2 separate regions of the Homo sapiens genome follow, and region 2 is linked to region 1. The links come from fine-mapping of genetic effects on gene expression. A gene starts in region 1. The other region holds a variant in brackets. All regions are shown on one strand. Distances are from middle to middle. Region 1 holds the start of RAB2A (RAB2A, member RAS oncogene family). Region 2 has its middle 4.8 kb from the start of LINC01301.

Evidence for each region. PIP is the estimated chance that this variant, and not a neighbour inherited with it, causes the effect. A credible set is the group of variants that fine-mapping cannot tell apart.
Region 2: its variant is the best candidate, but not a certain one, in a credible set for the expression of RAB2A in neutrophils (BLUEPRINT, PIP 0.60).

Annotation. Positions count from the first base shown.
Region 1 is chr8:60,514,085-60,519,463 of GRCh38, reverse strand. It overlaps RAB2A (RAB2A, member RAS oncogene family), which reads right to left and starts at 2,477. Exons shown (of 8, transcript NM_002865.3): 1 at 2,211-2,477. The coding sequence starts at 2,256. It overlaps LOC124901949 (a long non-coding RNA gene), which reads right to left. Exons shown (of 3, transcript XR_007060922.1): 3 at 2,666-5,379. RefSeq lists enhancers at 1,044-1,233, 2,469-3,329 and a silencer at 2,024-2,893.
Region 2 is chr8:60,415,939-60,421,317 of GRCh38, reverse strand. No RefSeq gene overlaps it. Among named protein-coding and RNA genes, the nearest start is that of LINC01301, 4.8 kb to the right of the region's middle. The variant T/AATAT (reference allele first, on the strand shown) is at 2,251.

The sequences.
Region 1 (5,379 bases):
GAAGGACTGATGGATCTTCCACAGGGAGAGATTGTGCCGGAAAGCACTCTAAGAATAGAGACTAGCAGTGCCCAGGAAAAAAACACCAAAATCAGTCACTGGGACTCAATGGCAGAAGCAAGGTGGGGAATAGCGGGAAAGAAGGCGAGAAATGTAGATAGGGGCTAAAATATAGAGTTCACTGAAGGTCAAACTAAAAATTGTGAGCAAACAGGAGTAGCCTTTTGACATTCATGCTTCAGGATGACTAAACTGACAGTAAACTACACTGGCTGAACTGGAGTAGGGAGAAGTACTGCTGCAGACTATAACAGTGTCAAGAATTCTGTTCCTGAACTAGGTCGTATCAGCAGCAATGACAAGAAAGAAGTGTCTTCCCTTTGAATTGCGTGGGGACTGCTTTTGGATAAGAGCAAATTCCAAGAGAACAGAGCATTAACTTGTTAGGATTTGTAGCCCCACTACTCCATGCACAATACTTTATTTATCCACAGTACAGCCTCAAATAAAAAACTGAAAAAAGGCAACCAGCAAAGTCTGATTTGAATTTTCACCACTAATGAGATAGCCAAATGCCACAGTCACAAGCTTCTATTTCTCAAACCCACTCATATTACAGTTAATGTGGCATTCCTCTCCAATCTTGTTTTTACAGCCTAAATGAAATTTTGCCAGAAGACTTTAGAATTCTCCTTCTTCCAAATACACCACAGCATTTTTCTTTTAAAGTTTACAAATCCAATTTCCACACACACACACACGCACGCACGCATCAGAAAACCTTGCTGAAAACTCATGTATCTAGCAGAAATTTTTTCTTTCAGGCAGCAATAAATATGCTTTTTTTTTTTTTTTTTTTTTTTTTTTGCAAACTCCACCTTCCGGGCTCAAGTGATCCTCCCGCCTCAGCCTCCCAAGTGGCTGGGATTACAGGCGCCTGCCACGACGCCCGGCTAACTTTTGTACTTTTAGTAGAGACGGGGTTTCACCACGTTGGCCAAGCAGGTCTCGAACTCCTGATCTCAGGTGATCCCCCACCTCGGCCTCCGAAAGTGCTGGGATTACAGGTGTGAGCCACCGCGTCCGGCCAACATGCTTCTTTAGTTACTTATAGAACCTGCCACATCATTAGTTCAACTACAAACTGCTGCTTACATGACCGAAGTTGTGCAAAGGGTCCAAAGTTGTGCAAGAGTAACCACTGAAATCAGACTCTGGTATATTAATAGTTGCAACATCTAAACAATCTTTATGTTTATTATTAGATTCAAAGTAATGCCAAATCACAGGTATTAAAAATATCTACGAAGAGTCTGTTTACTTTTCTGTGAAATATACTAGGACGTCATTTTAAGTGAGAATAACTGAATTTCTTTCAGCTCATGGACATGAGCTCACCTGAAAATTAGCAGTTGTGACACCGGACTTGACATATCTAAAACATCAGCGTCCTCAACATACACATACCTAAGTACACACCCAGAGCACTGAACGACTTTACATTACTATATAACCCCAGTTCACACGTGGCAAAAGTCCACAGAACTCGTTCATGCTTTCCTAACCCCGAAAGGGATTCTCCAGCCGTCAAGTAATGAGATGTGACTTATTCTGACGTGAGAGTTGAAGGTGTTAAAAAAGCATATTTTATATATATGTATATATATAAAATACATATTTTAAAGGTTTCCTTTTCTCTTTCTCGGCTGCCTGTCCCACGCCAAAAAGCGCCTTGCCCAGGCCTTGATAGATGCGTGCTGGTGGAGGAAGGTTGGACTGGTCAGGAACCAAGACCCGGGCCCCAACACCTTCTGCTCCCCTAGGTTTCCCTCCTTCTTTTTCCTGGGGCCGCGAAGAGACCTAACGCAAGGGGCCCTGGGGGTGGGGTGCAGTCATGTGAGTCGGGCCCCGGCGGCCCTGCGCTAGGCCTCCCCTCCTGTCACACACTTCCTGAATCGGGCGTCGCAAACGGCTGCCACGGCCCTCAGCTGCAAGACTGGCCGGGTCGGGGGCCGCAGACCGGGCCTGGCCAGGCCGCGGCCGCTCGCAGTGCCCACGTCACCAGCTCCAGCACTGCGGAAATGGAGCGGCGCGGCCAGGAGGGAGGCGCCGGGTGGAGTCCGCGTCCCCGCCACCGCCAGACGCCGTTTGCCCCTCAGCCCGGGTCCGGAGGCCGCCGACACCCGCCCGGCCGCGCCCGGGGCCCTCACCTGTGTCGCCGATTATGATGTACTTGAAGAGATAGGCGTACGCCATGGCCGCGGCCGCTCAGTGCCAGGGCACACGGCTCCTCCTCCCGCTGCTGCTCCTCCTCCGCGCCCCAACCCCGGTGCCGCTCAGCCTCGAAACGCCAGGCGCCGCCCGCCGCCGCCGCTGCTGCTGTCAGCCGCCGGGAGTGAGGGGCTGTGAGGAAGCCGGACGAACTGACACCCGCAGAGCCGAGGGAGACAGCGCCCGACCGAGCCCAGCCGAACAATAACAGCCGCCGCGGCGCCTCCGCCCCGCCTCCGCGCCGACCCGGAAGTTCTGCGGCCGCCGGCGCCGCCGGAGGAAAGGGGAGGAGCCCCGCACGCTGGCCCAGCCCTGCACGCTGGCCGCGCCCCGCCAGCCGGAGCCCCGCCCCGCCCCGCCCCGCGCCTGCCTTGCCCGGTCCGCCCTGTCTTCCAGCAGGGCGGGGCCCGGCTCCGGTTGTTCCGCCACGTTTGAGCGGGCGAGCCCGGCGGCCGGGAGACGCCAGGGAACGGGGCTGGTGGGGGTACAAAGGCTCGGTTCCGTCGCCTTCAGCCCTGCGGTGGGGGCACGGGGCAAGTGAGGGGACGGCAGAGGCGGCGTTCGGTGTGAGGCTGCGCCCTGGGCTCCTGAAAATGTGTGTGAAAATGTGGGAGGCACACGGCGAGGGGGTGGGGGTGGCCTGGTATTTCTGTGTTTGGCATCGGGGCTTGAAGGTGAAAATGGCAGTATTTATAAATTGGAAACCGTAAATCTGGGACTGCAAAGTAAATCATGGTATGCACGCACAGTGGAGTACTACGTTGCTCTCACCTGAGGTCAGGAGTTCGAGACCAGCCTGGCCAACATGGCGAAACCGCGTCTCTACTAAAAATACATTAGCCGGGCGTGGTGGTGCTCGCCTGTAATCCCAGCTACTCGGAGTCTAAGGCAGGAGAATCACTTGAACCTGGGAGGTGGAGGTTGTAGTGAGCCGAGATTGAACCACGGCACTCCAGACTGGGCGACAGAGCGGGACTCCGTCTCAAAATAATAATAGTAAATAAAAAATAAATAAAGTCTCTGAACCTGTCCTGGTTCTGAGGGCTGCTCTAAAAAAAAAAAAAAAAAAAAAGCCTGACTTAGGTTAAGCAAAACCGAGATGATCTGTTTATGTGTGTGTATATAACATGCACCATATGTAATATATGAATTGTATATAATTTTTATGTGTAACAAATAGTGGGAAAACATTTACATACCCATATATGCATAATCAATCTGAAAGGAAAGCTAACTGGTATTAAGAGAAAGGAGGGAATGGGATTGGGGGGAAAATGTACTTTTCCCTGAATTTTTTTGTGCAGTTTGACATTTTTTGCAGTGTTCATGAGTTACCTATTAGGAAATACTGTTAAAGGAAAAAACAAAATGACTGTGCATTCAAAGAATAGTTATTGAATACTATGTTTCATGTACCGCCAGGCACAGCAACTGGAGGCCCTGTATGTTCTATGTTCTGTTTTTCTACTTTGCTTTTTCAGTCATCCAGCCCAAAATGTCACCACTCTGTTCAAAAAGACCACAGGTTATGGAAGAGGAGGTGGAGAATAGGGTGTCAGGAAAGGTTACTTAGAGATTATGATTTCTGAGCCAGGAATATGAATTATGTATAGAGTTTGTCGAAAGAACAACAGTTTGGGGAGGGGAACCAAAGTTTATGGACAAGGAACAGAATGTGCAAAATTCCTGGATCTGTTCAGGGAATTTGAAGTTGCATAAGGAAGCTAATTGACTAACTCATATCCTCATAACCCATAACCTCATATTGAAGGAGAATCATTGCTGGGGAAAAGCGATTGGGATTTAGTGGCCCTCGTTCCTGTTGCCTAATACTCTTCTCTTTGGGGCCTCTCATTATGTAATTAGTACTGACACCATCATGCTGGGTTGCTAACATGCTTTGGATGGCCTTGCCAAATATGAACTCACAAGGTTTTTCTGGAATATTTGGAGGGGATTTTACTAAAGGGTCAGAGATGGCACGGAAGAATTTGACATGAAAATTTGACATGAAAAGCTACCTGGAATCGCAAAATTTGGTTCATTCACCTTTAGTTTGAGGAAGGGGAGGTCCCTGCCCAAGGCCTCCAGTTTTCAGATGTCATTTTGTCCCTCCCACTTGAGTGCCTTCACCCAAGTCTTCCTTGGTGATGGAGAAACTCAAGTCTTCACTCTCACAAGATAGAGGGATGTGGCCTTCCTTCACCAGCACAACTCTATTAGGATGTTATACAAATGCCTGGCATCCTAGGAGTCAGGAGTATTCCTACACTGTTAGAGGAGGAGAGTACCTGGAGAGGTCTCTTGTGCCAGGTTATGTAGGGCCTTGTATGTTATGTCACCATGCATTTAGAACTTTACTTAGTAGACAAAGGAAATTGTGACAGGAAATGGTCAGAACTGGGTATGTAACAAAAATCATAGAAATGGATATAAAGCTATAGAGGCAATGTGTTATAAGGAAAATAGGATACCTGGCTTCTGGTCTTGGCTCTACCTGTAACTGATCGGATGAATGTGAGGAATCGTTTGGCCTCTTAAAGCTTCAGAGCACAGGTTGCGATGGCTTGTGCCTGCGGTCCCAGCTACTTGGGAGGCTGAAGAGGGAGGATAGCTTGAGCCAAGCAGTTTGAGGCAGCAGTGAGCTAGGATGGTGCGACTGCACTCCAGCTTGGGCTATAGATTGAGACCTTGTGTCTTAATAAATAAAATAATTATTAAAATAAAAATAATTTAAAAAATTATGAGTGGTTCAGTGCACTTGTCTATTAAGTAAAGGAGTTAAGTGTTTCTTAAAAGGGCTATTCCAAGCATGACGTCTTTTAATTTTATGCTTAGCCAGCCTCCAAATCTAAAGCCATCTGTAAAGAAGGTAGTAATCCTCTCGTGAAAATGCAGGGGCCATAGATGTCAAATGCATATTGTTCTGATTGATTGATTGATTGATTGAGAGGAGGTCTTGCTCTGTCATCTAGGCTGGAGTACAGTGACCCAGTCATGGCTTACTGCTGTCTTGACTTCCTGGGCTCAGGTGATTGTCCTGCCTCAGCCTCCTGAGTAGCTGGGATCACAGGCACATGCCACCACGCCTATATCATTTATTATTAT
Region 2 (5,379 bases), 98 kb after region 1:
AGGAGGGAACCGCCAAGCAGATATTGAAGCCAAAAGAGCCGCAAGGCGGGACCCTCCATTAGAAATGCTTATAGAAGGACCCCTAGTATGGGGTAACCCCCTCCAGGAAACCAAGTCCCAGTATTCAGCAGAAGAAATAGAATGAGGAACCTTACAAGGACATAGTTTCCTCCCCTCAGGATGGCTAGCCACTGAAGAAGGAAAAATACTTTTGCCTGCAGCTAACCAATGGAAATTACTTAAAACCCTTCACCAAACCTTTCACTTAGGCATTGATAGCACCCATCAGATGGCCAAATCATTATTTACTGGACCAGGCCTTTTCAAAACTATCAAGCAGATAGTAAGGGCCTGTGAAATGTGCCAAAGAAATAACCCCCTGCCTTATCACCAAGCTCCTTCAGGAGAACAAAGAACAGGCCATTACCCAGGAGAAGACTGGCAACTAGATTTTACCCACATGCGCAAATCTCAGGGATTTCAGTATCTACTAGTCTGGGTACATACTTTCACTGGTTGGGCAGAGGCCTTCCCTTGTAGGACAGAAAAGGCCCAAGAGGTAATAAAGGCACTAATTCATGAAATAATTCCCAGATTTGGACTTCCCCAAGGCTTACAGAGTGACAGTGACAAAGGCCTTGCTTTCAAGGCTGCAGTAATCCAGGGAATATCCCAGGCGTTAGGCATACAATATCACTTACACTGCACCTGGAGGCCACAATCCTCAGGAAAAGTCGAGAAAATGAATGAAACACTCAAATGACATCTAAAAAAGCTAACCCAAGAAACCCACCTCACATGGCCTGCTCTGTTGCCTATAGCCTTACTAAGAATCTGAAACTCTCCCCAAAAAGCGGGACTTAGCTTAGTGGTTAAAGTGGCTGGAGTGGAGTCTTGGATACATCACACTCGAGTCAAACCCTGGATACTGCCAAAGGAACCTGAAAATCCAGGAGACAACACTAGCTATTCCTGTGAACCTCTAGAGGATCTGCACCTGCTCTTCAAGTGACAACTGTGAAGAAAGTAACTAGAATCGTAGATCCCCATGGCCCTCCTTTGTCATGTTTTTCTTTTTACTGTTCTCTTACCCTGTTTCACTCTCATTGCACCCGCTCTATGCCGCTGTACTACCAGCAGCTCCCCTTACCAAGAGCTTCTATGGAGAATGCAGCTTCCCAGAAATATTGATGCCCCATCATATAGGAGTTTTTCTAAAGGAAACCCCAATTTCACCGCCCACACCCATATGCCCCTGCACTTCAGGCCATACTCTTCAATCCCTGTATCTTTAACCTCCTTGTTAAGTTTGTCTCTTCAAGAATCGAAGCTATAAACCTACAAACAGTTCTTCAAATGGAGCCCCAGATGCAGTACATGACTAAGATCTATCGCAGACCCCTGGACCAGCCTGCTAGCCCATTCTCCAATGTTGATGACATTGAAGGCACCCCTCCCGAGGAAATCTCAACTGCACGGCCCCTACTATGCCCCAATTCAGCAGGAAGCAGTTAGAGCGGTCATCGGCCAACCTCCCGAACAGCATTTGGGTTTTCCTGTTGAGGGGGGCACTGAGAGACAGGACTAGCTGGATTTCCTAGGCTGACTAAGAATTCCTAAGCCTAGCTGGGGAAGGTGACCACACCCCCTACCTTTAAACACGGGGCTTATAACTCAGCTCACACCCAACCAATCAGGTAGTTAAGAGGGCTCACTAAAATACAAATAAGGCTAAAAGCAGGAGGTAAAGAAATAGTTAAATCATATATCGCCTGAGAGCACAGGGGGAGGGACAATGATCGGGATATAAACCCAGGCATTCAAGCAGGGAGCGGCAACCTCCTTTGGGTCCCCTCCCATTGTATGGGAGCTCTGTTTTCATTTTATTAAATCTTGCAACTGCAAAAAAAAAAAAAAAAAAAAGTAAGTATGTTCAGGCCAAGTACAGGGGCTCATATCTATAATCCCAGCACTTTGGAAGGCTGAGGTGGGAGGATTGCTTGGAGTTTGAGATCAGCCTGGGCAACATAGCGAGACACTGTCTCTACAAAAAATAAAAAATTAGCCAGGTGTGGTGGTGCATGCCTGTAGTCCGGCTACTTGGGAGGCTGAGGTGGGAGGATCACTTGAGCCTGGGTGATTGAGGCTGCAGTGAGTGGTGATCTTACCACTGCACTCCAGCCTGGGTGACAAAGACCCTTTCACAAATAAATAAACAAATAAATAAATAAATAAATAAATAAATAAATA[T/AATAT]TTTCCTTAGCGTAAATATCTTAAAGTCAGAGTAGTTGTAAAAGAATGTAAATGATTCCATTACTCTTGATGTATAATAGAAAGAATCATGTAAATATGGGCTGCTAACAGCTGCATGCAAGAATCTAACTCTTCCCAACTGTGCTTGCAATGGATATTAATCTCTTAATTTTTGTTAGGTATATTTGCTTACTTTTTAATAGGCATATAATAATATTTCTCTCTTTTTAATTTTCATTCATTTATTAGGCAATTCAAATAGTTTTCAATAAAATTTTTGCTTGTTTATTGCTGTATTTGCTGCAAATATATTTCCAATATGTTTGCCTTTTAAATTTTAATTTTGATAGTTAACTTCACAGAAATTTGAAACTTTCATAGGGTCAAATTTGTTTGTCTTTTTAGTTATAATGTCTCCTATTTCTTGATTTTTAAAATGTTATCACATATTTTGGGTCATTTGTTTAATGGCCAGAATACTATTTGATTTTTGGTACAAAAGTTTTAAATTGTTAAGAAACTATAAAAGTCCCAGAAGTGTCTAAAAGGCTCTGAAGGAAATGTAGTTGGAGCTACATAGAAAACTGTACTGATTGCTCTGTGACTTACCATATCTAAACTATGCTGTAGCAGTTCACAATTTAATGCCCAGTGTTAACTGAATTTATTTATAGTTCAAAGACCCTGAATCCTTTCCTGCAGCACAGATCTGGCCCAAGACAATAACATCTCCAGTTTTACAGGCTTCAAGCTGTTTTACAGTGTGGAACATTGGAAATGAACTGGCACATACACACCCAACACTGTTATACTGTTATTTGTTTAAATTTAAAACGTGGCATGTGGCAATGTTGGGATGTTATCAAGGGAGGTTGGCTGTGTGAATGCTTACATAGCTCGTCAGTTGGCATTTACCTTCTGCAGATTCTACACTATAGCAGGTCAGCTTTTCAGCTTTGCAGCTTCAAATGTTATAAATTTTAAGGATACTTGGTGTGAATCTGGTTCTCTGGGGGCAAACTCCCATTAACCAACATGACAAGAGACTGATGTATAAATCAAAGTACCAGTATCATTTTGCAATAAGAACCTTGAGCATCCTTTTGACTGAGATATTTCAGGCAATATGATGAGCCTATTATCTCTCTCAGCAGCTTTCCTAGGGGAGTCAAAATTATACTCAGGAGGCTCCCTGATGAATACAGAATTGGAGCAAAGTGAAGGAGTTGTCTAATTTAGTTAATAAATCAGTGTGTTTCAGAGGCCATATATATTTATGTCCACTGATTATAGTGCTAGGCTCTATAGGCCACCCTGCCTCCTCCCTTCATTGAGTTTGTGTGGGTACTAGCCCGCCCGGGTCTTCAAGTTTACGTATTCTGTGTGTGAGGTTGCCTGTGCTTTCAAGTTCAAACAACTTTTCTCCTAACAGAATTCAACAGAGTTGACCAAGTTCCTGCTTACCTGATTGCAGTCACAATTTAAGTCCTTTCCAGTGGTGATCCTTGGGTCCCCTTTACTGCATCTTGGGTGTTTTCAAACACATTTCAACAGTCTTGGTGAGACCAGACCATGAAGAACTAGAATCATAGATCCCCTATCTGATATCACAAATAGACTTGCTGATTTAGCTCTTTGAGGACAAGCTTTTCTTCATGTTCTTGGTTGGGAGTTCCCTCCATGCTACCGCTTTTGGCTCTCTGCATATGGTGCACGGAAAACGAAGGGTTTCCATCCCTGTGTCCAAGTCCAAATACCCTTAATTCCTGGCATCTCCTGTTTGCCCCTTCTTGGGAATGTTCCTTAAGATAAATATCTTAAGATGCTTGGACTACACCTCTCTTTTTTGGCAAATGTTAAACCACACCAATTTGGGGCTTGCTTCTTCCCCTGCAAAAGTCCCACATGAACCCTCCTGAGCTGAAGCAAAGGACCCAGACCTGTCTGTGGAGCTACTTGAGCCCCAAAATGCTGCATCCCAACTGTATCCCTGGTCTGTCCTGGTCTCCCTCTTGGGCCACCCTGGTTGCTCCTGTCGTGTGGGCCTGGCTCCAGGCTGCACACCTGGCTCATCAATGCCGAACAAGCTCTGCCAGCTGCTGCATGATTGTTGACACTCGGCGTGCACTGGCTGTTTGACCACATCCCGGAACACTCTTTGCTGAAACCGACAAAGTAAAATATTCCTGAACATATAATGTAGTACTCTGGGGGGAAAATTAAACATTTTAGTGGTATATTAAAAATAGTAAATAAAATTTCAGAAAATTTCAGAATATATCACATTGCCTAGTGCAATGACCTAATAGACCAGGGAGCTAGCAAACAAGAAACCAGTATTGCAAAAGTGAAATGATTTTCATTGTAAACATATAAAATGCAGTTACTGTGAACAAATATAATCCCCAAACAATAACACTTTTGTTATCAGAACTCTGTTAAGTAATCAAGAACTTATAAAACAATGATTTTTTTGAAAATGCCCCCTTTGGAGAATACAAGCATGCCCTGTATCGGCATAGCACTTTTAAACACTTTCATGTCTCTGATCTTATTATAGCCTTAGGATGCATGTGAAACTCATGTTTTCGTAGACAAAGAGGTTCCCTTTATAAGAAGCACATCTGGGACTCTAATTTCAGGACTTTCCCTCCATGTGGTGGCCACTCCTGGAGAAATGATGCTTGTGCGTGACTAATAAAAGGCAGGCTTCCCACAGACACACTTTTCTTGCTAAGAGCCTATTCCTTCAGGCTGTTGTATTTTGTTAACAGTGACAATGACAAGCACTAACAGGATGCTCCCGCTGTGATTGAGAATGTGTAAGTGCTTTTCTGTGTGTGTGCTAGGCATTTGCTTGTTTGCTCTCAGGCCCAATGTCTGCCCTTTCTCTCTGCTCTGTGTCTCTGGATACACTGCCCAGGCTCCTGTATCTTCTGACTTCTACCTCCTCTGGGCAAGGAGAGGCATTGGTAGGAGACTACAGGGTTGGGGGAAAAGAGAAGCCTGGGCCTTTCTCTCCTTCCCATCTTCCTTGTCTGGTATCTCCACATCCAGCAGCAGTTAATTCTCCGTGGCATTAGCTCCCCTGCCCCACCATGCTCCAGCACCTACTGGGTTGCCTGGCTT